Homo sapiens: one gene and its partners. The protein of the gene in region 2 purifies or fractionates together with the protein of the main gene of each other region. This does not show direct contact. Each region holds a gene or a part of one and is shown on either strand. Other genes may lie near its edges. The genes, in order: UQCRFS1, SPATA20, RAVER2 and RREB1.

Region 1 (8,354 bases), on a different chromosome or scaffold from region 2:
AGTCAAAGTGACATTACATCCTATACTACTACTCTAACAAATAAATGCTAACCTGCCAGTATATACTGGCATTTGGAATTAAGCATAAATTACTTGCTCCTAGCACTACCTGGGATTACAGAAAAGATGAGCTTCCTCCCTAAAAGATAAAGGAATAAAAAGTTCATACTTCTACATTAAAAACAGTATCCACAACCCTTAACAGTATACAAGGAAATGTACAAGAAAACTCAATAAAATGGCTTTGCCCTTCTCATTCAGAGATTTGGTGGCAAAAGTCTCCTCCCACTCTATCTAGCTGGTTACACTTTAGTAGGCTACACCACCAAGAATCCTTTCGGAAATTAAACTGCCCTGTTGCAAAAATCATTCTCCAAATATTTACATGAGCTGCATTAGGTCTGACTTTCAGTAAGATGCTAGATTTAATTCTAACCTAAAGCAAAATCAAATACTTAAAGGAGAAAATTTAAGGAATTTTAACAAAACAAGTTTTATTTTAAGGTTGAGCTCCAATGCGCCTTGGAAATCTGCATGAAAATAGTACAACCTTCCTCTCCAATTCAAGAATCTTCTCCAGATCCAACCCCTCCACTCCCATAAGCCATCCTGCCATGAACCATCTAGACAGACTATAATGTGAACTTAAATTACAGGCTGAAATGATTACAGAAAAGGTTTTTGCCTTATGGTTCTACATTATTTGCCTGTTTCTAAAAATAGTTTCTCTAAGTCAGGTAAACCTCCAATTTTTTTTTTATTATACTTTAAGTTTTAGGGTACATGTGCACAATGTGCAGGTTAGTTACATATGTATACATGTGCCATGCTGGTGTGCTGCACCCATTGACTCATCATTTAGCATTAGGTATATCTCCCAATGCTATCCCTCCCCCTCCCCCCACCCCACAACAGTCCCCAGAGTGTGATGTTCCCCTTCCTGTGTCCATGTGTTCTCATTGTTCAATTCCCACCTATGAGTGAGAACATGCAGTGTTTGTTTTTTGTCCTTGCGACAGTTTACTTAGAATGATGATTTCCAATTTCATCCATGTCCCTACAAAGGACATGAACTCATCATTTTTTATGGCTGCATAGTATTCCACGGTGTATATGTGCCACATTTTCTTAATCCGGTCTATCATTGTTGGACATTTGGATTGGTTCCAAGTCTTTGCTATTGTGAATAGTGCCCCAATAAACATACATGTAAATGTGTCTTTATAGCAGCATGATTTATAGTCTTTTGGGTATATACCCAGTAATGGGATGGCTGGGTCAAATGGTATTTCTAGTTCTAGATCCCTGAGGAATCTCCACACTGACTTCCACAATGGTTGAACTAGTTTACAGTCCCACCAACAGTGTAAAAGTGTTCCTATTTCTCCACATCCTCTCCAGCACCTGTTGTTTCCTGACTTTTTAATGACTGCCATTCTAACTGGTGTGAGATGGTATCTCATTGTGGTTTACAGGCAACCTAAAAATTGGGAGAAAATTTTTGCAACCTACTCATCTGACAAAGGGCTAATATCCAGAATCTACAATGAACTCAAACAAATTTACAAGAAAAAAACAAACAACCCCATCAAAAAGTGGGCGAAGGACATGAACAGACACTTCTCAAAAGAAGACATTTATGCAGCCAAAAAACACATGAAAAAATGCTCAGCATCACTGGCCATCAGAGAAATGTAAGCCTCCAATTTTTTGAAGAAACTTTAGCAACACGACGAATTCCAAAGATGCTTTTCTTTTGCTATTGAAATGTTCTCCTTCCTTCCTTCTCACCTCCAGGTCCCAAGGATGGGCTAGGGTACTCTACACCTGCCATGGACAGTTTCTTCAAAACCCACTGATGCTCCTTAACAAATATTCATTCACAAATACTTTGCACTAACTGTATACAAAATCCGACGTTGTGAAAGATAGAAAAATAAAGAAGATATTACCTTCTCTATGCCCTTAAGCCCAAGGGTGGAGGAGTTACCAATAAACACAATACAGAGTGTAAAGTGTATGTGCTACAGAGACAGACAAATCAGCAAATAAAAACTTTATTCACCTGATCCTTAACTGAGATTGAAAAGATGGGTAAGGAAAACATATGGACATGTAGCAACTTAGTGGAAGGACCATGAAGAAAGTGCAGAGCCCAGGGTGAATGAAGACAGAGTAAAAAGAAAAGTGGCGGGCAATTTGGTTAGCGTGTAGGGGAAGAGTCACAAACAGCTATCAGTGGAGCCAGGCTGGTAACAGAATGAAACACGCAGACCTGGTAAAGACTGTGACAAACTGGAGAAGACCACTTGCTCCAACTGCGGGGGCGGCCACTACACAGCACACTATGGAATTTTCCCAAGTAGAAACTAGATCCCAGTATTACCGGCTTCCAGCATTTTAAGAGATGCCATTAGTCTTCCCAGTTTTTTTGAAAACTACACAGCCTGCAGACACACTGCCCACAGGCTGCCATTTCTCTATCTCCGATACAGGGCCAAGTAAAGATGGAAGGCGAGGCAAAGAAGATAAACGGGGATCTAAGGACAGAGGGTGTGGAATAGCCCCTGCGAAGAGCTCAGTGGCTACGACAATTCGTCTTGTCAAATCCCTGCTACCACATGTCCACACCACGGATCCTGGTGCGAGTCATTCTACCTCGTCTGTTTTCTCATCTGTAAAATGTAAATGTCGTCAATCTCTGCCCGTCCTTGACGACTGATTATGTTGTGACACTACACTGTAACTGACCTTGTGTATGTTTTTTTTGTTTTTTTTTTGGTGGGGGGGTGATGAAGGGGAAGGACATGAAGGGATCGGTAGTGGTGAGAAGACCAACTTCCCAAATATTAGTAAGTTTCCATTTCTTAAGCATGTAAGTGCCCAAACTGTGCTAACGGCTTTACGTAGAATTCCTCCACCTAAGCCTCACGACACCCCTACAAAATTGATAAAGATATGAATCCATTTCACAGGAAGTACGTTTAGAAACTCGCCCAAGGTCAAACGACCTGCAAGCAACAAAACCCCTCAGAGGTGGCTGGAACAGCGGGACTACAGAGCTCGTGAACTCGGCCGAGGAGGAACCAGGCGAAGCCGGCGGACGCGAGTCCAGGCCGGCCACCAGAAAGACGCCCCGAGCCCGGGGGCCAGGCCCAGAGTTGCGGAGGCCGCCCAGCCCGACCTGATTCAGGCTCCGCTCGCGCGCCCGCGGCCGCTCCCTGCTGGGGGCCGGAGGAGCGGGCACCGAGAGACCCCCAGCCCTGCTCGCGGCCCTCGCCCCGGCTCACCATTGAGGCCCACGGAGGCGACCAAAGGCCGGCGCACGGCCTGGCCGCTCAGCGACTCCCGGCTGAGGAAGGGCCGCTTCAGGTCCAACACAGGCTGCTCCGGGGTGGCGGGCACCGTGGCCTGCACCAAGGGCCGCAGCGCGCCCGCCACCCCGCGGGACGTGGCCGACAGGACGGGCGCGAACGGGCCTGAGCGGGATGCTACCGACAACATGGCGACAGCCGCTCCAACCGCCAAGCCGGTCACAGGGACGACCTTCCAACCACGGCGCAGGCGCGAGGAGGCGCGGGACGCGTGACGACAGCGCGCCGCCGGAAAGGAAATTCTGCAGTCCTGCAGGGCGGGGCAAACTTGGAGAGGCGCTGCGTCGGGGGACGGGGCTACAAGCCGTCGCTGGGGGCGGGGCTTGCGGCCCACCTGTAGGTCCCGGTGCCACCTCGTCAGTGTCCCGAGAGATCCCCAGAAGAACGAGAGGGCTGAACAGGGGACCCCACTGACGTCCGGTGGGCCGACTTTACGATCCTTTAGGGTAAAAATTTCATCTAGGAAGACCTAGAGATAACAATAAACGATTATAGTTTAACTTAGGATGGTAATATATCTCAACTACGACGAAGTCCAGCACATAGTAATCGCTATGTGTTTACTATGATGATTTTTATTATCTTCATCTAACAACAACAACAACAAAAAGGCCAGAGGCATCTGTGCAAAGCTCGATAATGCTAATGGATTATGTTTATTAAGTATTCACTGTGTATTTGGTTTTGCGTTTTATTATACCTACGTTCTTTCATTTGTTATCAAGGTCTCTATGAAGTCAGAGCTATTACTATCAGCATTTTACCCATGAAGAAACCGAGGTTTAGAGAGATTCTTTTCCAGGAACTGGATAGCCAGCAAGATGTGAAGCAGGGTAATCTGTCTCCTGAGTCTATGCTCTTCAGTGCCACCACTGTTTCCCAAAGTAGGATTTTAGAATTTTAGAGGATGCACAGAGCTCGCTCATTCATGTTCCATCACATAGTGAGAAAGTTTTGTTTTCTTTTGTTTTGTTTTTCAATCCTGATTGCACCAATGAGAAAGTCTCAGTTTGGTGCTAATACATCTTTAATTAAAAAAAAAAAAAAGTAGAGATGAGGTCTCACTATATTGCCCACTCCAGTCTCGAACTTCTGGCCTCAAGGAGTCCTGTCTCCCCCTCCCAAAGTACTGGGATTATAGGCATGAGCAAATTCACTTGGCCTCAGTTTGATCCTAATATATCTTTAATTCCTCTCTACACTTATCTCCCACTTTTAACAGAAAAGATCTTGAGTTAGAAGCTCTTAGCAGAGAACTGAGTCTAGAGTGATTTCATTATATGGTTCATAGTATTGATTTTCTATCCATACTGGTTTTCTATTCTGTACTATACTGAGATAAAGTTTTTCATTTAGGTCAAAAATAATTTAAATATTAAGTAAATGTTAATATAAGCAGTGCACAGAATTGGCTCTGTGCTGTGCATGGGCTCTGTGATCTGGGCAAGTTCCCTCACCTCTCTGTGCCTCAGTTTCCTCACCTGCCAAATGGGGGCAGTAATGATGCCATGTGTGTTGTAAAGTTACTGGGAGGAGTAAATGAACTAAAACGTGTAAAGCATCTACAAGCAGGCCCAGCACACAGGCAGCACCAAGTGAGGATTTGCTAGTGGTGTTTTTATCTGAGATGCCACCTCCTCTAAGAAGCCTTCCCTTGATCCTTGCTGACTCGTTGTTATTCCTCATGCCAGGTCCAAAGTGTACTGACAGGTTTCCCCTTTGACCTTCCTATGACTCCCCTTAGGGCCTAGGCTTTGACCAGCCTTATAGCCCAAGGGACTATATTGTACTCTCAAGATTGGAGGCTGCCTCCTCAGGGGCCACCCTAGCCAGGCTCATCACACAGCTGGCTCAGTGCTCTCCCTTGGCAACAACCTTAGGATAAAAGACATTTCCAGAGAAGTTGTCACACAGCATGCATGGTTTGAGTGCTTCACAAGAAATAATATCACAATTCCCTCTGAGTTGGTAAGGAAATGAAAAATGAATGAATGAATGAATGATCCTTCACAAAACCTTCACAATGTCCCAGTTGGGTGAACAGAATAGGAATTATCTCCAGACCTCCTGGGTTCAATTTTAGTTTCACCACTCACTAGCTGTGCCCTAGGGCAAGTTATTTAATCTCTGTGTGTGCCTCCGTCTTTCTCTTGTAAAACAGAGATAATAACAGGATCTACCCTAGAGAGTTATTTTAAGGATGAGATGGATTAATACATGTAAAATGCCTAGAACTGTGCCTGGCACACAGTATGTAAATATCTGCAATAATAATAACTTTCTATTTTCTAGATGAAGAAACTAAGACTCAGAGAAGACAAATGACATGCCCAAAGACACATTGATAAGAACGCATCTGGTAGTGGTGTTCGAGTCCAGCGTTGCAGCAGAGAGATGGGTAACTGTATGGCCGAACAGCTGTCTTCTCGTGGAAGAAGGAGGCCAATGTCCAGGAGTGGCAGGCATACTGGAACTTGGACTTCTGTAGGCCAACCTGGGTTCCACTTGGTAGATGGGGGTCTTGCTGTGTTGCCCAGGCTGGTCTCAAACTCCTGGCCTGAAGCAGTCCTCCTCCCTTAGCCTCCAGAGTAGCTGGGACTACAGGTACACACCACTGCAACCCCTCAGTGGTTGTTATTTAACTGAAGGGGGTTTTAGCTTTCATGTATCAGCTCACTCTGGAGCCAGACAGCCTGGCCTTCATGGCAGCTCTGCCCCTTACTACCTGTGTGACATCGGGCAACGTTACTGAGTGTCAGATTTCTTATTTGTAAAACAGGGATAAAAATGACATTGCTGTGCAAATTAAAAGAAAGAATCCATGTGAGATATTTAGCACACTGGCATACAATGAGAGCTTAATAAACATTGTTAGTTTTGTAAACTGAGGGAAAAAAATAGCCACAGGCCTGGGAACATAAATGCTTGGTAAGCTTCTCAGTTCCCTGGAAGTCTGACACGCAATGTGTATGTATGAACAAGGCAGGAGGAAGCATGACACCAAGCCTTCCTTTTAACAAACACTGTTTAAATCAGAGGTCGGAAGTCATGGACTGGAGATTCATTCTCTCCCCACTCATTTCTGCCCAGAGACACCTGGTGATCTGGCATACACAGTGCTATGAACCTCAGAATTATTTGCTAGCATTTACAAATTGTGAGTACTCCCACATACAAACTGTGGTAGATGGAATAATGCCTCCCCACAAAAATGTCCACAGCCTAATCCCTGGAACCTGGGAATATGTTACTTTACACAGCAAAGGAATGTTGCAGCTGTGATTGGAGATTGAGATAGGGAGAGTGTATTAGTCTGTTGTCATGCGGCTATGAAGAAATACCTGAGACTGGGTAATTTACAAAGAAAAGAGGTTTAATTCACTTACAGCTCAGCACGGCTGGTTGGGGGGGCGCCCTCAGGAAATTTACAATCATGGTAGGAGGCACCTCTTCACAGGGTGGCAGGAGAGAAAATAAGAGCAGAGCGAAGGGGGAACCCCTTATAAAACTGTCAGATCTCATGAGAACTCACTGTCATGAGAACAGCATGGGGGAAACCGCCCCCATGATCCATCACCTCCACCTGGTCCCCCCCTTGTTACAATTCAAGGGGATTGTAACAATTCAAGGTGAGATCTGGGTGGGGACACAGAGCCAAACCATATCAGAGAGTCTTCCTGCAGTGTCCGGGTGGGTGCGGCATGTTCATAGGGTCTTAGAAGAGGGAAGCAAGAGGTGAGAGGACAGAAATGCCACATTGCTGGCTTTGAGGGTGGGGCCAGAGGAGGGACCTGCAGGCAGAGATAGAGCTGGAAATGGAAAGGAAACCTTCTCCCTTAGAGTCTCCAGAAGAAGTGCAGCCCTACAGACCTGTGTTAGGCTTCAGACCTCCAGAATTGTAAAATAATAAAATTGCATTATTTTAAGCCACTCGAGGCCCATGTCCTCAACAAAGAGAAAGACGGTGGGGTGCTGTCAGCCAGGGTAGGTACCTGCTTGGTGGTCTGGGTCCTTTCCCACTGTGTCCATTCAGTTACATTACCTGCCCATCTGCTGAGGCCTCGAGTTTGGGACCTCAGGTTTATATAATTCCTTGCACAAGCATGATCGATTGATTCCGGAGAGTAGCAGAACACTGATATGCAGGGGAATCTCCTAGTTCCAAGTGTGAGTTGTAGTCTAGACACTTCCTGTTCCCTACAGTCTTTTTTTTTTTTTTTTTTTTTTTTGAGACAAAGTTTTGCTCTGTTGCCCAGGCTGGAGTGCAGTGGTGTGATCTCGGCTCACTGCAACCTCTGCCTCCTGGGTTCAAGCAATTCTGCCTCAGCCTCCCGAATAGCTGGGATCACAGGCACATGCCACCATGCCCAGCTAATTTTTGTATTTTTAGTAGAGTTAGGGTTTCGCCATGTTGGCCAGGGTGATCTCAAACTCTTGACCTCACATGATCCGCCCGCCACAGCCTCCCAAAGTGCTGGGATTACAGGCGCAAACCACCGCCCCCAGCCCTCTTCCCTACTGCCTTGATGTGTTCATCTGGGCAATGTGTGTTGAGGGGGCATAGGGAGGGGAGCTCTAAGGCAAATGTGCTGGGATTCTGCATTCGTCATCCTCAAAACAAAATTGGTCCCTAGGTAGTTCTGCCTGTGATCCTGCATAATGTGCAAAGCCAGTAAGATGCCTTTGCCTCATCCCCAGGGAACATGCCTCCCAGCCACTTTCATCTCACCTAGTGCCTACACAGAAAGGCAACCGCCTCCCTGCTGAAGGGACCCCACGCCTGTCTCCTGTTTCCACACAATTACCCCGGGAAATGCCTGGCTTCCCATTTCCAGTTGCAGCCATCTTGACAGTTTCAGCCTCTCCCCACAGCCCACGTCCCTCACTTGAGCAGCGAGATGTGAAGACAGACAGCCGCTTGAGAACTGCACAGACTGTCCTTAATCTAAGCCATTTAAAAGGCATTTGTGTTCCATAAAA
Region 2 (6,771 bases):
GGAGGCCCTGCTTCCATCCTTTCGAGGCTGGGGCTAGATGGATACCCCAAAAGAAATGTCTTAGTCGTGACAATAGCAGCTCCCACAATGCACCAGGGCATATGCAAAGTCACCATTCTGTGAAATATAAAAGCTCATATAAAGCATCTCTGCCCCCTTTCCAGCTCAACACAAGGAGACAATGGGGAGGGGAGGGCAGGTTCCCTTCTTAACCTCTTTCTGAGGGCAAGGATTGTGCTTTCTCCCTCCTGGGCCAGTCCACACCCCCATGCCCACCCCTGGGCATCTTTACTTGGTTTTAGTCCCCTGACCTCAGTTCAGGGGACTAAATTCATTCAGGCTACAATGACCATGGAAGGGAAAGGGGCAGTCTGCTGACCCCTGGAAGATGAAGGAGAAATGGGAGAAGGCAGAGGGGTCAGGTGGGGGCTGCCAGAGGAAGTGGCCCTGAGCTGCTGGTTCCCAGTCCCTCCCTCATAAGCAAAGCTGAGGCCCTCAGGTTACCACGGGACACTGTTAAGTTTATTCTAGGGTGAGTGGGTGCCCAAGGGGGGCAGTGAGTATGGCCGAGGTCACCTGGTGGCAGGGTGCTCAGGGATGGCCACAGGTTCTATAGGGCCCTGCAGGGCCTGAGTCTCTAGTCAGTTGGGATGCTTCACCTTCTGCCCCACCCCAAGGGGGTTGGGGCAGTCATGGATGTAGTAGTTTTCGTAATTCGCAGGGATCAGTGATGGGCACTGAGCAGGCTTGATTCTCACACACATATGCAGTGGCCTGGTCTTCCAACCGTCGGAGGGTACTCAGGAAAGGCAGCTGGCGGGACAGGAAGCTCGAGGGGTCCCCATCAGCCAGAATCAGCACCTAGGGCAGCAGCAGAGCAGGGAGAGTCACCTGCCGGGGTGGGGTCACCTGCCCATTAGAAAGGCCCACTGGGAAGTTCCCTCTTCCCAACATTCTGAGGGGAAGGAGATGTTGAGGAGCTGAGGATGGGAGGGGGCAGCTCTGGGGAGGTGGCAGATTGGGCTCACAGGGATGGGTACCTTGTTAGGAATGTAGACAGAGTGGACGCACTGCACCAGGGCCTTGGTGTCCTTGGCCTGACGGTCTCCACAGATCACGATCTGACCGGAATAGAAAGGTCACTCCGGTGTGTCAGGGGAGGGAGGGCTGAGCCCTAGACCACCAGGGCTTCCCCATCCTCCTTCCGCCCCACCGTATATCTCTAAGAAGGAACAGGGACTCATCTCAGCTGCCAGGATGAGTTAATGCTTGGCAAGTGGGAACACACACACACACTCACACATGAGAATACCGAAGTGGAAATGTCATACATATACACAATGGTACAGATACAAACATGGGGAGACACACACCCAGAAGACCCAGAGCACACAGAGACCCATTCAGACAGACACAGAGTAGTCACACACACACACACACACACACACACACACACACACACACACAGTAGATGCCCACACAGAGGCAGATACCACACACACAAACACCAGACACACACGCATGCAGGCAGACACAGAGGCAAACCTGCAGATGGGGCATCCACATGCAGACAGACAAACACTCACACCAGCATCCCCCTCAAAGGTAGGTGCACAGACACACACCTCCAGGGTCACACACACCCGGAAGTACACACACACCAGTAACACAGTATGGACAGAAGCAATTACACTGACACCAAGACGTACAGAGAAACACTTCATCAGCCACCACGGACTCATATTAACTTCTGCCTCCCTGTCTGACAGGCCACGTGCCTGCACACACACAGACCTGAGCTCTGGGGACAGCCCAGGAACCCCACCCCCTGTTCCCATCTGCCATCGCAGCCCCAACTTCCCTCCTACCCGAGGTCCCAGCCCAGATGCCCTCACCCCCCACCTGCTTGAGGGTCTGCTGCTGGGCTGAGAGGGCGCGGACCATCTCGGGCAACGCCACCGGGACACGACGCATGCGCTCGGAAAAGGCGGTCAATAGGCACACACACTTGTCCATCCAGTCCTTGTGGCCCGTGAAGCCATGCAGCCGGAGCAGGTTGTGGGCTGACACGGAATTGGCGCTGGGCTCTGCTCCATCCTGGTCTACAGCACATAGGGAGGCAGGGGGTGGGGGTAAGGGCAGGTCACTGAGTCCCAGGACCCTGCCCAGGACTGTATCCAGGGCCACTTGGGGGACGGGACAGAGAAAAGGCCCTGCCCATCCTGCCCCTTCCCCGCTCTGGGTGTGGATGCCACTCCAGCAGTTATCAGTACTTTGCTGTCTTTTTTATGGCACCCTCCACTCTACCTGTCCTAGCCTCAACTGTTGGTCTCCAGGCTCCCTCCTCGCTGCTGATGCCTCTGTCCAGCCACTCAGCTGCTCAAGCTAGAGCGGCATCATCCTGTCCCCTTCCTCTCCCTCTCCCTCCGCTTCTAATCCATCTGTGAGTCTTGCCAGGGCTGTGGCCAGAAGAGATCCAAATCTCACCATGTCTCCCCATCTCATACTTCCACATCCTCTGAGCCTTCACCAATGCCTGCCTGGACTGAACACGAGTAATGGCCTCCTAACTGGTCGCCTGTTTCCCCCACCCCCACTTCTCTCCATCAGTGGTCAGAGTGACCTCCTTAAAACCATACCAGAGCAGATCACAATCCACTTAAAACCTCCTTGCCAGCCGGGCATGGTGGCTCACACCTGTAGTCCCAGCACCTGGGAAGCCGAGGCGGGAGGATCACCTGAGCCCAGGAGTTTGAGACCAGCCTTCTTTTCTTAGGAAAAAAAAAAAAAAAAGACGGCTTCCGTGCCCTGCCGGCCTCAGCATTCTCCTCGGTGCCCTCCTGGAACACGCGGGCCCTGCCTGTCCTCCAGGATACAGGCTGCCTGCACCAGGCCTGTCATGCACTGCTCCCTATGCCTGAACTCTCTCCACAGCTTCTCCATGGCCACATGGCCCCTCTTTCCCTCCAGGCCTTGGTTAAATGACACCTGTCACAGGTGTCCTCTAATCTCTCCCTAGGCTGAGTTGGTCCTCCTCTGTGGTTCTCTCCCAAGGCCCTTTCATTCACTCAGTTAACATTTATTAAGCACTTACAATGTGCCAGAACCACACTAGACCCTGGGGATACAACAGTGGCAGAAAGTCCTGATCTTTGAGGAGCTAAAATTTGAGTTTTGGGAAAGAAACCTTTAACCACAGACAAGGCACATGGGTGATAGGGAGCAGGCACACATAGAGCGTCCTACTTCTTCATGGCACTCACCACAATTTTAACTGCACATTTGTGCATGTGTTTTTGCATCATTACTGCATTTTCGCTGTCTCCCCTACCATACTGTAAGCTTCATGAGGGCAGAGACCAAGTGAGCCTTGGTCAATATCTGAATCCATGGGTGTCAGTTACTGTGCTAAGCATGTTTACAGAACAGCTACATTCATCTTTACATCAACCCTGTAAGGTAGTACCAATGTTAGCTCCATTTTACTTATTAAGAAACAGGCCAGGCATGGTGGCTCTCGCCTGTAATCCCAGCACTTTGGGAGGCCGAGGTGGGCAGATCACTTGAGCCCAGTAGTTTCAGACCAGCCTGGGCAACATGGAGAAATCCCATCTCTACAAAAAATTAGCCAGGCATGGTGGTGCATGCCTATAGTCCTAGCTACTCAGGAGGCTGAGGTGGGAGAATTGATTCAGCCCCGGAGGCAGAGGTTGCTGTGAGCCAAGATCATGCCACTGCATTCCAGCCTGGGTGACAGTGAGACCCTGTCTCAAAAAAAAAAAAAAAAGAGAAAGAAAGAGAGAAAGAAAAGAAAGAAAGGAAGAAAGGAAAGAGAAAGAAAGAAAGAGAAAGGAAATAAAAAGAAAAGAAAGGAACGAAACAAAACACGCTGAGTGTAGTGGTTCATGCCTGTAATCCCAGCACTTTGGGAGGCCGAGGTGGGAGGATCACTTGAGCCCAGGATTTCAAGATCAGCCTGGGCAACATAGCAAGACTCTGTCTCTATTTAAAAAAAAGAAATTGAGACACAGAAATATTACAGCAGCCAAAAATCACGCCATTAATAAGTAGCAGAGACACAAAGCCAGGAGGGCTCCTGCCCACACCAGCTCTTCACCCACGCTGCACTTACACCTCCCAGGACCCCAGACTAGCCCTGCACCCCCACTGACCGTCCTTCAGACGCAGGGGCAGGCCAGCCCCCAGCTCAGCCTCACTGCAGAAGTAGCCGCCACCCTGGGAGTCCCAAAAGAGCTTGTCCTGTGTGTCCTGCAGCCGCAGAGCCCACTCGAGCCACGCACTCTCCTGTGAGGCCTCATACAGGTCCAGCAGGCCCCGCACCACGAAGGCGTAGTCCTCCAGGAAGCCCCAGCAGGGTGGGTTGCTGGGGGACAGGCATTACGGGAGGGGCTGGGGAGAGCCCCAGGAGAGAGGGCCTTTCCCAGAGGAGGCCCTTTCACGCATTTGTTCACTTAACCCTCCAGATGAACCCTCTTGGGCAGGTGCCATCAGCCCACTTCCCAGATGAGTAAATGGGCCCAGGGAAGCTACAAACTCACAGCAAGCACCTGGCAGAGCCAGGACTGGAGTCCACATGGAGGGGAGAAGTAGGGCAGAGGTAGGCTGGGGACGCGTTGGGGAGACGGGCCCTCCCGGTCTACCCAGCCCCCAACCTGTGCTCCACAGTCCCCCCAGGGCCGGTGTAGCAGGTCCGCATCAGGCGGCCACTGGCCACATCAAACATGTGCCGCTTCAGGAACTTGGCACCATTGGTGGCATAGTTGATCAGCCTGTCTTGGCCCAGGACAGCCCCAGTCACAGCATAGCCTGACACCATCAAGCCTGGAGCCAGGAGAGACAAGTAGTGGTAAGAAGCTGGCCAGGACCCTCCAGGCATGTCCACCCTATCACCTTAGGCCCCAACACCTCCCTGGAGCCATGGGTGATCCCTAAGATCTTGGGCTCCAAAGCCAGACATGGCGGGGTTCCCAGCCCTTGCGCGTGACCTTGGGCGGGTTACTCAAGCTCCTTAAGCCTCTTTTGTCAACTGAGAATAATAACGCTAATCAAGGGAGAGTGAGCATTTAGCCGCTGCCGGAAAGACAGGGGCTTTGTGAAGGGGGATCCTACAGACAGGCTCGGTCTCAGGTGTGCTGCCCCACCATTCCAGGCAGCCAGCATCTTGCTGTCCAGGTGCGGCTTGGGCCGATGCTTCCGGGCCTGGAAGAGCTTCTCCAGCCCTGAATTGAGCAAGGTCCGCACGGCCTCCACATCCAAGCCAAAGCGGGCAGCAGTCAGCTCCAGCGAGTACCGGACGGTCAGCACATTCTGGCCCTGCAGCTCCCCCTTGGGGTCCTGAGGAGAATGGCCTTTGTCTGCGAGCTCACACGCCTGGCAGGCACCAGGGCCCGTCAGGTGACCCCAGAAGTCCTCACCTGACTGGGGCTGATGTTACCAGCCTCTGTGAGGCCGTAGTGCTTCATGAGGAGCTGGCCTGAGGTCAGCGGCTCGGTGGCACCCAACACAGGCTCCGGGAGGAGCTGCTGAACCTCTTTGACCGTCCACACATAGTAGGCGCCCTCTTTGGGCCGCTGGCCCCGCTCTGGGGGCGAGTCTGCATCTTCTGCGCTATAGAAGCCTCCGGACTGTGGGGAGGGGAGAGTTGGCTGGCCCCGGCCCACAGGGCAGTGGAGGCCCCAACCCCTCCCACAGCCAGGCCTGCCTGCCACCATGGACACACACCCGGTGGCTCAGGCTCCGAGCCACGTACTGCAGGATGCCTTTGGCCACGTCAGAGTAGAATTCATCACCAGAGAGCTAAGAAAGGGAAGAAAGGAGACTGTGAACAGAGAGGTCACTGGGGAGGCCCAGGTGGAAGGTGGCAACATTCTCTGAGGCAGGCGGGGGAGGGAAGCCTGGGTAGTGGGTACATGGGAGGGAACAGGGGATTCAGATTAAGAGAAGCCACAGTCACCAGGAAGGCCTTGGGAGGGGCAGCCAGAGTGAGATGCCTGTTCTCTGGGCTGGGGTCAGGGGTCACCTGGAAGGCCTGCGAATAGGCCACAGCGAGCTGTGCCTGGTCATAGAGCATCTTCTCAAAGTGAGGGACGTGCCACTGGCGGTCTGTGGAGTAGCGGTGAAAGCCCTGTGCGGATACAAAGCTGGAGGCCAGTCCCAGCTTCTGCCCCACCCCACAGCCCCCTGCTGCCCCTCCAGGGAACACCCAGTGCCCGTCACCTGCCCCACATGGTCCCGGATGCCCCCGTTAGCCATCATTTTCAGGGTATGCAAGGCCATCTGCTGGGCCCGAGAGCCATCCTGAGTCAGTCGATGGCTGAGCCAGTAGGAGAACAGGAAGCTCAGGATCACTGTGGGGGCACCAAGAACATGCAGGTGAGAGAATGGGAAAGTGGGGACAGAGATCGGGGTGGTCAGGAGGCCTTGGGCCAGGCAGAGGCTGGGAGTTCACTCAACAGGCAGTCTCTGGACAGGCTGTGAGGTCAAGAGTCAACCCACAGGACAGAAGGTAATAGCCTAAGCCAGAGGTCAGAATATCATTGGTTCACAGAGGACCAGTAAGTTACTTGTCCCCCTAGAGCCCAGAATGTCATTAGCCAAGTCAGGGTCACTGGGTCACTGACCAAGTCAGGGGACAGAAGGTCATCATCTAGGTTAAGGTGAGAGGGTCACTGCTGACACCAGCAGTCGGGTCTTCACCGATAGCTACCGACAGGCTAGGGGCAAGGAGGTCACTGCCAGTCAGGAGGACAG
Region 3 (8,380 bases), on a different chromosome or scaffold from region 2:
GGCTGTGAAAACAAAGAGGGCCAGGAAGATTCCAGAAAGCTTAGGCAGACCAGACAGGGCTTGACTGAATGCACAGTAATTATTCAGTGAGAAAGCTTTTGAGAACTTAATATAAAGGTGTTCACTTTTTTTTAGAGCCGGTACTTCTATAAGGTATTTGATAAACATACCTCTAAAAGCTTCCAGTTAAAAATACTTTCAGTATGCCTTTTAATTATAGGAACTATAAAGTTGTGGGATGCTATTATAAATCTGCTATACCAAAAATAAAACAAAATTTGAGATTTATGAAAACTACATTTAATAAAGAAAACACTCATATATTTCAAATGTTAAGAAAAAATTATTGGGTTTCTACTAGTAAGTTATTGATCAGTATTTTCTAGAGACATAAATACACAGTTTGAGAACTAGAGTTATGAATGTCTTTGATCCTTAAAGTGATATTCTAAAATAAAGAAATGAGGCCAGGCACAGTGGCTCACACCTGTAATCTCAGCACTTTGGGAGGCCGAGGCGTGTGGGATCACCTGAGGTCAGGAGTTCAAGACCGGCCTGGTCAACATGGCAAAACCACATCTCTACTAAAAAATACAAAAATTAGCCAGGCATGGTGGCAGGCTTATGTAATCCCAGCTACTTGGGAGGCTGAGGCAGGGAGAATCACTTGGACCTGGGAGGCAGAGGTTGCAGTGAGCTGAGGTCGCGCCACTGCACTCCAGCCTGGATGACAGAGCGAGACTCTGTCTCAGAAAAAAAAAAAAAGAAAGAAAGAAATGAATGAATAAACACAGTCTCTTCTGGAAAAGAACAAGAACTTAGTATTTCAAAAATATCTGATTACTTAATAATTGAACAAAAGCCATATTAACCATTTCATAAGGGTAAATATGTAGTTTTAGCACAGGTGATTTTATGTAGGCCTTACTAGCAAAAAGACACAAAATAAAATAAAGTGAAACTTTCATCAGTAAGTTGACAGTAAAATATAGTCACTAAGAAAAAGCAGACATTATAATTAAGGGAAATTGTTAAAACAAAAAATACAAAAAAATTCATGCAGAACATATGAAAATATTAGTTTAAGTAGATGAAATCTCAAAAATACAAATCCCAGTGTAATTCTGAGAAAGCTTCTATCACTAATTAAAACTGCTCCTTTTATTAGACCCTTTGATATATTTTTCATGTCTATTGCGAAGGGAAATGAGAAAGATACCAACAGCAAAGCAAGAATAGACAGAACGTCTTCAATTTGGGGTCTAAATATATTTAGAATTAATGCAAGGAATTGTGATAACAAAAACAGCTGACATTCTACAAAGACATTGAGATACTTCTCTATTTCTCTCCTCCTAGACTGTCTATACAAAGAGCTGCTATTTTTTAAATTTGTTTTTTTAAAAAATGCCATCTGCTTCTTCCAAGCCTCCTCCTTCCTGAGCTCCCTTACAGTCCTCTATTTGTATGGGCAGGGGAGGCTGCTTCCAAGAAATCAGTCCATTGCAGGTGTCCTTAACAGGTAGTATCACAAAACATTACCTGACAGATGGGAAGTGGACCATGGCGGAATGGAAAGAGTTGAAAGACAGATGAGATAAACAATACTGACAGACACTGCATTTTGAAACAAAATAGCCCCCCATGCCTACGGGTTATAAGGTTATATGTTCATATTTATTGTGAATGGCTATGTAAGGTCTCATTACATAGTAATGGGGCATTGGTCTCATTATTTTATAAGTCACATGGAAGAACTGCCATGCAATTGTCAATAGCCAGCCCTCTTGCAATTTCATGCATCCGGTTACAGGAGGAACTACAAATCCGCAACTACCAGGACAGCCCACCACACTCGGAGCAGTATATAAATTCAGGTTATATGTGAAACATGTGTGAACATCCAGACAGCTAAGAAATCCTGAAGAATCAAAGAAATGATTTCAAGCTTTTGATAAAACAAAAATATATATGCATAGGAAAAGAGAAAAGAACAACATCCCAGGATAACAATGGTTATCTTCAGGTATCAGAAATATGGGTAATTTCTGTGTCCCCTTTGTGCTTCTCTGTCTTTCCTAGCTCTCCTACAATGAGCATGCAGCTTTTGAAATCAGGGGAAAAAAAAAGTTAAATAGATGCAGAGTTTCTAATCTTAAAAGCAACAGTTAATCTGGATTAAATACACAGAGTAGCTATCTTTAAACCTCATCCAAGTCACTGAGAACAAACCCTCCAGTACTGTACTTGGCGTAGCAGGAGGCGGCTGCAAGGCTCCAAGGAGCGCAGCAATAACTCTATTCTGGGGCCTTAGCAAACTGAGAAGACAGAGTTGTTTCATAGAAACTTGGGCAAGTGCTTCTGCAACAACAGCGAAACTCACTCCCAGCTCTCTCGTGCCCCTGCCCCCTATGGCACTCCCGAGCACCGGGGACTATACGTTGGAGCCCTCGCCCCTGCCAAGGTGCTCCCGAAGCTTCGGCCCCCTCTACCCCCGCTCCCCCCCGCAAAATGTGTGCTCCACAACTCACCTCCACTCTCCTTCACCTCCTACTCCTCTACGGCCGTAGGGGAAGGAAAGACCGGGCCGAACTTGGAGGCAGCAGCCCCTGATTCCCGTGACCTTGGAGAAGCCGCTTCGCCACTCAGAGCCTCAGTTTCCCAATCTGCCCCCCTCCCTGGCAGGGCGTCTGCAGGCTAGAAACCCCAAGAACTCAGTCAAACCGAGGGGCCGCTCTCACCACTCGGCGCCGACCCACTCCCCAGGACCGCTCTGAGGCGCCCCCGATCCCAGCCTGGACACGGAGCGCCGCCCCGCCGCCCCTCGGGACGCGTCGCCCCTATCACCGTCCCAGTACCTGGCAGTTGCTGTCCTGGGGCAGGTTTTTCACCAGGATTTTCCTGCGGTTGCTCAGCTCCCGCTGCATCCGCTGCAGTCGCGCGGCGACCTCCTCAGGGTGCAGCGCGGCGGGCATCGGGTCCGGGGCGCCCTCGTGCGCTTCGGCTGAGGGGCCCTGCCCGCGCAGCCCCGGCCCCGGCCCCAGCCCCGCCGCGCTGCCCAGGCCCGCGCCCCCCTCGCCGCCGCCGTCTCCCGCCGCCGCCGCCATCTTCCCGGGCGCCCAGCGGCTGCGGACTCCTCGGAGGCTCCAGGGGAAGCGGAGAGAGAAAGCGGGAGGAGGCCCGGGCGAGGGCGAGGCGGGCAGAGGCCGCAGAGTGGGCCCAACCGCGGGGAAGGGGGGCGGTGGGAGGAGGGAGTAGAGAGAGGCGGCGCCGCAGCCAGCAGCCTGCTGGCGGGGAGAGGAAACCTGAGGCGCCGAGGAGGAGCCCGAGAACCACCTCGCGGGAACCTCCCCCGCCGGCCCCCGGCCCCGGCGCACAGGCGCGCCCGCGCCCGCCTCTCGCGGGTCCGCAGGCGGGGCCGGGCGCCGCCACCCGGACACCTGTGAGGGCGCGGACGCGCAGGCGGGCTCCCCCTCTCTGCGAGGCCTTCGCGAACGCCCAGGGTCGTTCTCTGGGGGATGCGGCCCCTTCGCGGTGGCTTCGCCGGGAGACTCAGCCCCAGGCGCCTGTCCCCGGCTGGCCCCCCATGTGACGCCGCAGCTCTCCCCCGGCTCCCCTCGAAACTCCCGCGCTGGGGCGGCCCGGGGGCTGCGGGCGCGAACTCGGTCTTCCCACACCCGAGATGGGGCTGGAGGGGTGGCAGGAGGGCGCCTCCTGCAGCCCGGCTGGCTCCCGATGGTAACCCTTCTGTTGGTTCAAGAAGAGCATATTTGGCAAAGTTTGAGTTTACAATGAGATTTTCTGGGGAGTAAAAAGAGGGACATTGTGGGAGAAATGTTATGTATTTGGTAAAACCTGATCGTAATGTATTTTGCTAGCTGTGTATGAGAAAGCCTGTGCCCTTCACCTGTCCCTCTGTCCCTGTCATGCAGTTCCTAAAATGTAAAACCTGGGTAGTTGGGTCTGCAACATGGAAAGTGATGCTGAAACAAAGACTAGAATGGAAAAGGAGCTGTGGCAGAGGGGCTGGAGAATACGCTGCTTGGAACATTATTTTAATTGAAACTTGGAGGGAGAGTTACAGTGTAGAACTATACTTAGTCAAACGGATGTCATCAGATCAAACAATCCAGCAGCCTTTGGCACTAGCCCAGGTGACCATCAGCGAAGGGGACCATGCATCTTAATTGTGTAGCATGCAAGTACACTAGCAAAAAAAAAAAAAAAAAAAAAAAAAAGACTTTAACACTAATTAAAAGAAAAACAAAATGTTTTAAAGATTTTTTAAAAATACTACAAATTCAGTCCTTACCATGTGCTCCCCCCAACCACGCATTTCTAAATGCTTTACATATACATATTTATTTACTCTTCATGATCATTCAATTACGTAGGTTTTGTTTTCCTCACTTTACACGTGAGGAAATGGGATCTGTTCTGATTGATTCCAAAGCCCAGTGTTCTGAATAACATAAAATAATTCACCCGTAATCCGTCCACCCAAAAATAATGGCTGCTAATACTTGTATCATTAAAATGATATTCGGCAATACACCCTTCTATACCACCACTATTCCTGGTAACCAAAGGATAGAAACAACCCAAATGTCCATTTATTGATGAACAGATAGGCAAAGCGTGGGATATATATATGCTAAGAAATATTTTTAGCCATAAAAAGGAATTAAGGACCCCTACAAGGTGGACGAACCTCCAAAGCATTAAATGAAAGAAGCCAGAGACAAAAGGTCATATATTGTATGATTCCATGCGTATAAAATATCAGAATAGGTAGATTCATAGAGCGGAACACAGATTGGTGTTTACCAAGGGCTGGAGGAGAAGGTAATGGGTGCAAACATCCTTATGGAATGATGAAAATCTAGTTTTGGAACTAGACAGAGGGGGCAGTAGCCCAATAATATGAATGTACTAAATAGTCACTGAACTATTCACTTTTAAAATATTAATTTTATTACGTGACTATTACTGCATAAAAATGTTTTTGAATGATATTCTGTAGTTTACAGCTCTGTTTTCTGCTTTTTACAGTATGTCTGCTGAATCCCTTTCTATGCCAATGTATTTGAATACCATGGTTTTTATGGCTGCATATTATTCTGTTGAATTAGAAAATTCACTTATTTCCTAGCATTAGTATTTCCTATTATTTTTATCTATTGTAAACAGCACTGAGTTTAACCCTCTATACATATTTGAAGATCATTACTTTTCCACAGAGTGAAGAACTAGAAGCAAAATTTCTGCATCTAGAGTAAGCATATTTAAGGATTTTTTGTATGTATTTACAAACTTACCTCAGTTTTCCCTATCACAAGCATTGTATAAGAGCACTTATTTCTCTGCTTGCATCCATGATATTCTAGTATTAATGTATCATTTTGCTTTTAAATTGTATTCCTTTGATTTTAAAAGGTATACATTTTAAACTCCAATAAGGCCCTATTTTGTAGAGCTGAGAGACTTTGAAAAGTACATTCTTTGAAGTGAAGAAGCATGAATAGCCTTAGCATAGGCTGTAACCTTGAGTCATTCATTATGTTTCAGAACATGTATTTATCCAAATGAGTACCACCTCCTTGGCAAACATTTATTAAATGTCCCTTATGTGCTAGATAATATATAAAGGCAATAAGAAGACAGAAATAGTAAAATAATGCTCCTGTACAATAGGGGCTAAGTCTCACTGAGAGAAAATTATGCAATGATTATAATTAAATATAATAAATATGCAAACGGATAGTGGTCTGAATATAACTTCAGTGATTGCTTTTGCTCAAAACATTCTCCAAAGTGCTTTTTTTTTTTCTTTTGTGACGGAGTCTTGCTCTGTTGCCCAGGCTGGAGTGCAGTGGCGTGATCTTGGCTCACTGCAACCTCCGCCTCCCAGGTTCAAGCGATTCTCCTGCCTTACCCTCCAGAGTAGCTGGGACTACAGGCGTGTGCCACCAAGCCCAGCTAATTTTTTGTATTTTTAGTAGAGACGGGGTTTCACCATGTTAGCCAGGATGGTCTTGATTTCCTGACCTCATGATCCGCTCGCCTCGGCCTCCCAAAGTGCTGGGATTACAGGCGTGAGCCACCACGCCCAGCCCCAAAGTGCTTTTTTGGAATTGACTTTATAATCTACAGCAAATTATTCTGCATAGTTTATGTGGTAGCAAATACTCACCTCTTAGAGATGGGTTTAATTTTTGGAAATAATTAAATGTTATTTGAGGTTAAGTCTGGTGAATGAATCAGGTGTTGATTATGTTTTGGGAGTTATGATAATGTAATTCCAGTTTTGGCCCCAATGGGGACATGATTACAATGTTATCAAATTATTAAGCCAATTTTATTAAGTGGCTACTTTGAATTGATCCCACTCCTTGTGCAATATTGCTACGTCGTATAGGGTAGTGGCTTTCAAACTTTTTTGACCCAATCTAGTGGGAAATATATGCCACAGTGGGAAATATATTTTATATCACAATTTAGTAAACACACACACAATCGAAATGAAGATTTCACAAAACATCACGCTCCTTCATCATGTAGCACATTCTAGTATTTCCTATTCTATTCCATTCCATTTTAAAATTGCTTGAATTACACAGTCGATTTTGCATATCACTAATGAGTCCTTACTCACATTTCGAAAAACACTGCCCTAGATTTCAAATCAAGTATGTTTTACATTTGCTCAACTGTTTTCAAGGAATTAAGGGAAATGGCAGAATCTACTGGTTAAAAATAATTTTAAACTGAATTAATTGTTATTGCCACATAAAAGAACTGGATGGAAACTGCAAAGACTTTGGAATGCTACTGTAATTCCAAAGAGTTCCTCTCATGCCAGGTTTAGCCTGACTCTTTAAATAGCTGCTTCCATGGCATACTAAAGGAACACTCTAATCTGAACTTGAAGTGAAGTACAATTATCAAGCAGCAATGTATTTACCAATACCCACAGGTAATTATCATGATCTATATAATGACCATGTTATTAAAATATGAGCCCTATGCTAGCTTTAGCCTTTATTTTTTTAAATATTGGTGGTAATTTTTTAAAGTTTATTTATTTATTTATTTTTTTATTATTCTTTAAGTTTTAGGGTACATGTGCACAACATGCAGGTTGGTTACATAAGTATACATGTGCCATGTTGGTGTGCTGCACCCATTAACTCATCATTTACATTAGGTATATCTCTTAATGTTATCCCTCCCTCTCCCCCCACTCCACAACAGGCCCCAGTATGTAATGTTCCCCACCCTGTGTCTATGTGTTCTCATTGTTCAATTCCCACCTATGAGTGAGAACATGTGGTGTTTGGTTTTTTGTCCTTGCAATAGTTTGCTGAGAATGATGGTTTCTAGCTTCCTCCATGTCCCTACAAAGGACATGAACTCATCATTTTTTATGGCTGCATAGTATTCCATGGTGTATATGTGCCACATTTTCTTAATGCAGTCTATCATTGTTGGACATTTGGGTTGGTTCCAAGTCTTTGCTATTGTGAATAGTGCCGCAATAACATACATGTGCATGATTTATAATCCTTTGGGTATATACCCAGTAATGGGATAGCTGGGTCAAATGGTATTTCTAGTTCTAGATCCCTGAGGAATCACCACACTGACTTCCACAATGGTTGAACTAGTTTACTGTCCCATATTGGTAATTTTTGTGTATTTTTAAAGTTCTGCAGGTGGGGAAAATGCTAGAAATGTTTACTAAGTCTCAGTTTAATAATAATAGTAATAACAACAGCTTCTTGTATCCAAACTCTTATGCTTATGTGATATGATAATATGATGAAAATAAGTTAAGTATGTGAAAAGACCTTGTAAACTATAAACAATACACATTATTCATTTAGCAGTATTTATTGAATGTCTATAATGTACCAGACACTGTACACCGGTGTACCACACACCGAATTTGATTGATTTTTATTCAGAAATGGACTTTTCCCTGGGGAAAGTCATTGCAACTCAGTAATTGTAAATTCCATGTCATAAATGCCATGAATAAAGTACTCTTTGTAGCACAGACAGGCGTTCAATTTTGACTTAGAGGAAGCCATTATGAGGAGCTAGGTCTTAAGGACAAGTAGGAGTTTTCTAGACGAAATGGGGCAAGTACTGAAACAGGAAACAGAGAGGCCCAAAGGCCTCAAAGGGACTGGTAGGTCTATGGAAGAATAAGTTTGGTGTTTATGAAGACTATACTTCTTTTGGGAGAGTAGCAGGAAATAAACGAGAAAGGCAGAAGATGTCATTCCAGTTTAAAGAAGTTGATTCCATTTTAAGTCAATACTTCAGTATGGCATAAAAGGCAGTCAAATAGAGAATAGGAACATTAGAGGTTTTG
Region 4 (7,592 bases), on a different chromosome or scaffold from region 2:
GATCACTTGAACTCAGCCAGGAGTTCAAGGCTGCAGTGAGCTGTGATCATGCCACTGTACTCTAGCCAGGGTGCACACAGGCACTCTAGCTTGGGTGACAGGGTGAGAGCTTGTCTCAAAAAAAAAAAAAAAAAAAAAAAAACCTCCAAAAACAAACAAAAAAAATTAGCCAGTGTTTACTCTCCCAGAACAGTCAAGAAACGAAGAAGGACATTGGGGCAAGAGAAGAGTGAACAGTGAGAATAGTTTGATGAGGAGATTGGGGCCTTGGCCTCCAAGATAAAAAAAAAAAAAAACAGAACTGAAAACATTTCTGTTCATTTTTCAAAGACAATCAGGGTTAGAAAGGTGGGGTCTAACTAGCATAGAAAACCTTGCAGTTGCTTTTCTTTTTGTAACAAGATGACAGCCTGAGCAGCCCAGCCTTCTCTCCATTGCTCCTCCACCCCTGCAGGCAGGTTTCTTTCTTTTGGTATTTTCTCTCTGTATTTGGCAGAAGTGTACACAGGACTGGGTACAAACGGCCAAAGCTGTCTTTTAAGAAAGCTAAAAGGAGCCAAATACAAGTGGTGTCCCAGGTGCTTTCCACACCCAGGTTTGGATGACTCACTGACCGAAGCTCTGACCCTCACTGCCAGATAGAAGCAGGGAGGAAAGGGTGTGGGGGGAAAGCCTGAGCCGGCTCAAAAAAGGCGCTCAAAGCACCCATGAGAAAGTAAGCAAGCCAGGGAAGCCCGGAATGGACACCCCATAGTCCCAAGCCCATCACTGTGGGACAAGGAACTGGAGCAAAGGGAAGGGGGAAGAAAATGAGGACAGAGGCTAGAACAGACTGGCTGTGTTTCCTGGCACCCTCTCCTCCACCTGTGGCCTAAAAACACACGAGATGCTCCCGAGGGGTAAAGGCAGGAACAGTGCACTCTTGTCTCCTATGGAGTGGCGCGTTTAGGTAGAGAAAGGTAAGGAACCAGGAACTGTCCTCATCAGCAGGAAAGTATGGTCTGGGAGAGAGCTGGAGAGGAGTGGAAGGAAGGAGGAAAGGCAGGTGTGTGTGGAGACTGTGCCAGGGGGTATGAAAAATGACAGCCCTGCCAGCTTCCTCATCAAACACAGTTCCTGGAACCTGAGCCGGGAGCAAGAAAAGGCTGAGGCCACATGCTCCTTGCCAGCAGCCAGCAGGTATACCCCTCGTTGGACACTGAACACCGGATCTGCTTCTTGCTGCCCCTTTGAGGACTGGGAGGACTGGAGAACACGTGTTTTGAGACAAAGTAGAGACAGTACAGTAATCTGCTGAGGGGGTAGGAGGAGGCCAGCATTCAAGGTGTAGACAGTTTGTTTAAATGCAGTCCAAAACCAGATGCTGCTCAATGCTTCTGGCTGGAACTCAGCTAGATTTTAACACTGTACTCAAAAACACAAAACGGCCAGGCACCGTGGCTCACGCCTAAAATCCCAATACTTTGCAAAGCTGAGGAGTTCGAGAACAGCCTGGGTAACATGGTGAGACCTTGTCTGTACAAAAGCAAAAAACTAGAAAAAACAAAAATACCCCACAGAACATCTTCTCCGAATAACACCTTTGTTTGCAGGGTGGCTGCAGAGTCAATGTTTAACATGTGTACACTCAAGACTTTTTTCAAAGTTTTGGAGACAGCGCCTCACAGAAGCCTAGGGAGCCAAGGATCCATGTGGTTCTGAGTGACAGCAGAGCTGCCTACCAGGAGAAAGATCAGGTCTGTGGGCTGAGGGGCCATCAGGTGACTTCCCAGGCTCCTTCCAGCTCTAATGCTCCGTGAATGGAAAATGCTCTAACACGACACTGGATGTAGCCAAGTGCTCCATATAACATGATTTAGCAGTGGTGATGCTGAACATCCCTGGAAGCTGAGAGTGAAGCCCAGCAAAGGAAATTAATGGAGCTCAATGGGCACCAACCTTCATACAGTGTCTATGCATGTGGCTAACACGATTCTGTAGTCATTAAGTCTGAAATTAGCTAATAACATTCTGATCCACAGTGGTGTCCCCCCTTATCTCAAACTACTTCCAAACCTTCTGCAATGTGGACATGTGGGAACACAGGGAGACATGGAAGGTGCACTCTGCCCGCCTTCTGCCTTCACACAGAGGACACACTGGGCACACACACCCTGACCAGTGGGCAGTTGCACAGAACCGGACCCTGGCTTGGAACAGTAGCTCCATCTCTTATTCCCCATATGGCTGTAGGCAAGTTACTTAGCTCCTTAAAAGTAAACCTCAATTTCCTTGTGGCAACACATGGATGACATCACCCTCACAGGATTGTCATGAAGACTAGCTCTACCAAGAACATATTATGGTAGGATACAGGGACTGCGCCAAAGCAGACACATCTATCAAGGTTATCAATAACTTTTAAGGGACAAGAGGCAGAATGTTTATATTTATATCTACCCCATCCTAACTTAAACAAACCTCCTGCTTTCTTGCTCAGTTTCAGATGCTACTAAATTTTAAACCAACACTGACATTTTGGCATTCAAAAGCCAGGCAATCATGACTGGATTCACAAATGGGAACACATATCAGGCACCTGCAAAGACATGGGCACAACTCTTAAAAAAGAAAATACTAGAAGAGGAAGATGGGGAGGTTGGGTGACAGCAGGGGGAGGTGGGAGCACCGAGGAAGGGGGCGAGCCAAGCCAATCATCAGATCCAGACCATCTGCTTTCTGAAAAGTGGTAACAGAAAGACTCACTTCTCCATAAACTCTCAGTAGGCGATAAACAGGTGGCACCCAAAAAAGGGTAGCAAAAGACATTGCTATAAGGGGCACCTTCTCTTGAAGATGCATTTTCTTCCCTGAACTGCTGTCATCATTAGAATGGTTGCTTTACTTGTCAGGCTTAAACTATTTTAACAGGGAGACAGTGGTATGAAAGGGCAGTACATACTTTACAAATCTAGAAATCCTGGTTCTCCTTGAGTCCTCCCTGGATAGGCACTCCTGACTTGCTACTCCTCAATCCCTGGATTCAAGGACCCACCACAGCAGAAGGAAATGCCGTGTCTGTGTGGCAAGCTCTGGTGACCAGTGCAGCCACTGAGAGTCCTATCGCTCCCAGCCACAACTCCCCTCTGGCTCCCAGATTCCTCTCCCTCCCCAGGCTCCATTCTGCACACTGTTCAGGTATCCAGCGGTGGCTCCATGACCTCCCTCCTGCTGTTCCACCTCATCTAGGAGAAACATCCTTCCACGAGCTTCTCCAAAGCTTTGTGAATGCATTTCCACCTGGACACAGAGCACAGCTCACACCAATTCCCACAACCCACCCTCAACATCCTGTCATAAACCTCCTGACTACCTTGGGTTACCATATTTAGCGCAAAAAGAAAAACCCACAAAAAAAACCCAGGATGCCCAGAGCTAAATTTGAATTTTGGATAAACAAATAATTTTTTAGTAAATCCCAAGAACTACATAAAAATACTTATACTAAAAATTATTTGTTGTCTATCTGAAATTCAAGTTTAACTGGTGTTCTGTATTTTATTCACCAATCCAGTACCATTTGGTTTTAGGCCCTATCTATTTATTAATATTTTGGTTGTAAACTCCAAAAAGATAGGATCTCACTAATTTGCGCTTAGTTCAATAACACAAATCACTGAATACTGAGACTGTTCACTGAGAAAATTTAGAAAATTATAATTCAGATGAGAGTTGTATGGCCATTTATATACTAGAAGCACCTGATAACAAAATTATTTAAAGTATATTCCTATCCTAAACTTCTCTTTAAAAATCAGCTTCTAGAAACTAACATTTGAAAAATATTTTTGGGCAGGCCAGGTGCAGTGACTCACGCCTGTAATCCCAGCACTTTGAGAGGCCAAGGTGGGCAGATCACCTGAGGTCAGGAGTTTGAGACCAGTCTGGCCAACATGGTGAAACCCCATCTCTACTAAAAATACAAAAATTAGCTGGGCATGGTGGCGCATGCCTGTAATCTCAGCTACTTGGGAGGCTGAGGCAGGGAGAATTGCTTGAACCAGGGAGGCAGAGGTTGCAGTGAGCTGAGATCATACTACTCCACTCCAGCCTGGGTAACAGAGCGAGACTCCGTCTCAAAAAAAGAAAAATACTTTTGGGGCCAGGTGTGGGGGCTCATGCCTGTGATCCCAGCACTTTGGGAGGAAGAGGCAAGAAAACTGCTTGAGCCCAGAAGTTTGAGAGCAATATAGTGAGACTCTTTTATTTAAAAAAAAAAAAAAAAAAGAAAAAGAAAAAAGGAAGATACTTTTGGGGTATCACTTTGACAATTTAAGTTTGTTACTTAGAATTTTTTCACACTTGGGTGTGAGTTCTTGGGGATGGACAGGTTGATGGGCTCCATGGAGCAGTCGTAGGGGGCTAAGGAAGAAGGGCTCAGGAAGGAGTTGTTTTCCTGCTTCACCTGGACCAGCGCCAGGCCCTTCTGAGAGAAGTTTCTCAGAAAGGCTTACAATTGTAGTATAAACAGAAATTTTAAAACATTCTACCACCACTCATTGCTGATTTTCACAATCAACAGGGGAAGATGTGACTGCCTTAGTGAACTGAAAGAAAACAGCCAACCTCACAATTTGTCATATTTCTCTTTAAGAAGACATGGCATCCAAAAAAACTTCACAAAATTGTCAAAATTTAAAAAGCTGCATTGAGGACACTGGAATGGAATGTCAAAGCACCGAGCTCATTATGCCCCAATACCTTAATACAAAGTCTCACGTCTGTGGAGCCGCCTCCCTGTTTAACCCAGCAGATAATCTGGCTACCACCTCCGGAAGGGATGAGGCGACGCCATGAGTGATCTGAGGGCCTGTGACCACTTTCACCTCAAAACGCCCCGGATGAACACTTAGTAGAATGCTGCCCTTGGAGGGCTCGGCCCCTGCACAAAGGCCATGTGGGTACTGAGAGCACATAGGAAATACAGCACCACCAGACAAGCTCGGGGCTTCGGAGACCGGGGAAGAAGCCAAGCTAGGAATAACTGGAACTGTGGGAGATGGGTCTCGCTTTTGACCCCCACTCGTGGCTCCCCCTACCAGGAAGTAGGACTCACTGCCTGGGAGCCCGGTGGCCCTCTTACCAGTGTGTGTGAGCATGTGCCTCTGTAGGGAGCTGGCCCAAGGGAAAACCCGGGGACAGTGGGGACAGGTGATCTTCTGCAGGCAGTTGGTGTACGAGTTCCGCTTGGCCCTCAGCAGCTTGTCTTCTGGGGGACTGCCCTGCTCTTCATCACTGGGCCCATGGTGGTCGGCAGGGGCTCCGGCCACCTCATCCTGAGTGTTGTCCTCCGCTGTCTGCAGAAACGGACTGAACTTGTTGGTGTCTGTGGTGGCCAGCATCTTCTCGATGCTGGCAAACTCCCCGCTGGAGTCCAGGTCCACCCCGCCGCTGTTGGCGCGGGGTCGGCTCCTCATCCCCCTTTTCCGGCCCCTCTTCTTCGACGTGCCCGCTGGGCCCTGCTCGGTGGGAGAGGCAGCCTCTGGGCTGCTGGCTGGAGCGGGAGGCTCACTAGACTCTTTTGGGCTGGTGGTGGCAGCGGGGGTGGCGGTGGTGGCGGCTTTGGGGACAGAACCTCCTAAGCTGTCTGAAGCCGTGGTGTTACTGCCAGTGCTTGCGGGCCCTGGGTCCGCCACCTTGGTTTTCAGCAGGGTGGGGGCCGAGGATACAGATGAGATGATCTGGGCAATGGAGGCCAGCGGGGGCAGCTCTTCTGTCACGGGGGGCTTTGGCAAAAGCAGCGGGGGCTTGGGCCGCAGTGGACGCAGCAAGGCTGTGCCACTCAGGAGGGCTGAGCTGCCCACGAGTGGAGGGCTGCTGACCAGGGCTGAGGAGTAGATTGGGACCGCCAGCTGAACAGGGCCCTGCAGGGGCTGTGCTGGGGGTTCCGGGGTGGCCGCCGGAGCAGGGGCCATGGGGCTTTCCAGGATTCCGCTGGGCCCCAAAGTTACAGGAAGAGAAGGGCCGGGTGCTGGGCAGGGAGAGGGCTGCTCGCTGCTCCCCGCCTCCTCCTCAGGCTTCTTGGCTTCGCTGGGAGTGGCCAAATCCTTGTCCCCTTTCCTGAAGTTCTTGGGGATGGACAGGTCGATGGGCTCCATGGAGCAGTCATAGGGGACCAGGGAAGAAGGGCTCAGAAAGGAGATGTTTTCCTGCTTCACTTGGACCAGGGCCAGGCCCTTCTGCGAGAAGTCCAGGGGCTCATTGAAGTCCACCGCAAAGCTACTGGCGGGCTCCAACTTGATCGAGACATGGGGAGGTGGAGGCTGGGTGGGGCCCCTGTGAAGAAAGCCGTTCTGGGGTTCCAGGAAGGCAGTGAGGGGCTTGCAGTCACCAAGGGCAGCGCAGCCACTGTCCTCCCCGCGCCCCGACGCCTCAGCGGCCGGCGCCTCTGCGGGGCCCAGGCCGTCGGCGGCCAGCACGTAGCTCTCGATGTCCTGCTCGGGCACGTGCAGGTGCTGCTTGAGGATGTGGTGGATGCAGTTGCGCTTGGCCGCGAACGCGGCGCTGCACTCCTTGCACTCGAAGGGCTTGCGGCCCTTGTGGCCCCCGCCCAGGCCGCGGCCGCAGTGCGTGCGCATGTGGATGCGCAGGGCACGATAGTGCTTGAGGTCCTCGCCGCACAGCCGGCACACGGTGTCCGGGGCGCAGAAGGCGTCCACCAGCTCGGCCGCGCTGCTACTCACATACTCGATGTTCTTCTCGATATCCTTGCGGGTGGCCTTGAGGTGCTTCTTGCGCAGGTGCCGCTCGCAGTTGGCTTTGACAGTGAAGGGGTAGTGGCAGATCTTGCAAATGTAGGGCCGCTCCCCACTGTGCGTGCGCAGGTGGCGGATGAGCGCGGCCTTGTCGGCGGCGATGTAGTCGCAGATGTTGCACTGGTATGGCGAGATGCCCAGGTGGGAGCGCACGTGGGCACGCAAGACCCCCGAGAAGGCAAACACCTGGTTGCAGAAGCGGCAGGGGTAGAGCACCTTGCGCATGGCGGGCGTCTTCTTGCCGCCGGGCGCTGTCATGAAGGCCTTGAGTTCCCCCTCTGTGATCTCCTGCTTGATCTTGGCCTCCATGCTCAGCGGCAGCAGGGCCTCGATGATGCTGTCCTGCTCCAGCTGCGTCTTCATCTCAGGCTGGCCCGGCAGCTCCGCCCGCGGCTGCTGCAGGGAGAGCCGCGTGGCCGCGTGGGGCTGGGTCCCGGACTTGGACTGCAGCAGGTGGGCGTTGGAGGCCGCCTCCACTGAGCCTTTGAGGAGCTTCAGGGGCGGTGGCGGCAGGCTGGGGCTGATACAGCCCGGGGAAGCCTGCTGGGCGTTGATGAGAGGCGGGGGCGTGGAGGTGGCCACCACCGTCCGTGGTGTGACCAGGGGCTTTGGCTTCAGAGGGGGCATGTGCTTGAAGATCGCCTGCAGTGGGGCGGCAGGGGCCTTGGAGAAGGGCGGAAGACTGATCTGAGGGGGAGCCGAGGCTGCCATCTTCAGAATTTGCTGGATGTCTGCCAGCTCGATGGCCGACTCGCCAGAGATGGGCTTGACCACAATGCTGCTGTCAGGCTGGATGAT

The links.
Region 1: the proteins of SPATA20 (region 2) and UQCRFS1 purify together in Homo sapiens (co-immunoprecipitation; 2 studies listed by IntAct). This does not show direct contact.
Region 3: the proteins of SPATA20 (region 2) and RAVER2 purify together in Homo sapiens (affinity purification with mass spectrometry; 2 studies listed by BioGRID and IntAct, with this or other methods). This does not show direct contact.
Region 4: the proteins of SPATA20 (region 2) and RREB1 purify together in Homo sapiens (affinity purification with mass spectrometry; 2 studies listed by BioGRID and IntAct, with this or other methods). This does not show direct contact.

Annotation. Positions count from the first base shown.
Region 1 is NC_000019.10:29,209,615-29,217,968, forward strand, and holds the start of UQCRFS1 (cytochrome b-c1 complex subunit Rieske, mitochondrial), read right to left. Parts: upstream 3,538-8,354; 5' UTR 3,505-3,537; coding exon 3,291-3,504; intron 1-3,290.
Region 2 is NC_000017.11:50,549,582-50,556,352, reverse strand, and holds the end of SPATA20 (spermatogenesis-associated protein 20 isoform 1 precursor), read right to left. Parts: intron 6,369-6,771; coding exon 6,238-6,368; intron 6,146-6,237; coding exon 6,041-6,145; intron 5,818-6,040; coding exon 5,743-5,817; intron 5,646-5,742; coding exon 5,436-5,645; intron 5,356-5,435; coding exon 5,163-5,355; intron 4,843-5,162; coding exon 4,674-4,842; intron 4,385-4,673; coding exon 4,173-4,384; intron 2,103-4,172; coding exon 1,903-2,102; intron 1,122-1,902; coding exon 1,041-1,121; intron 862-1,040; coding exon 691-861; 3' UTR 501-690; downstream 1-500. UniProt on the Homo sapiens protein: May play a role in fertility regulation.
Region 3 is NC_000001.11:64,739,900-64,748,279, reverse strand, and holds the start of RAVER2 (ribonucleoprotein PTB-binding 2), read right to left. Parts: upstream 3,206-8,380; 5' UTR 3,108-3,205; coding exon 2,859-3,107; intron 1-2,858. UniProt on the Homo sapiens protein: May bind single-stranded nucleic acids.
Region 4 is NC_000006.12:7,229,438-7,237,029, reverse strand, and holds part of RREB1 (ras-responsive element-binding protein 1), read right to left. Parts: coding exon 5,123-7,592; intron 1-5,122.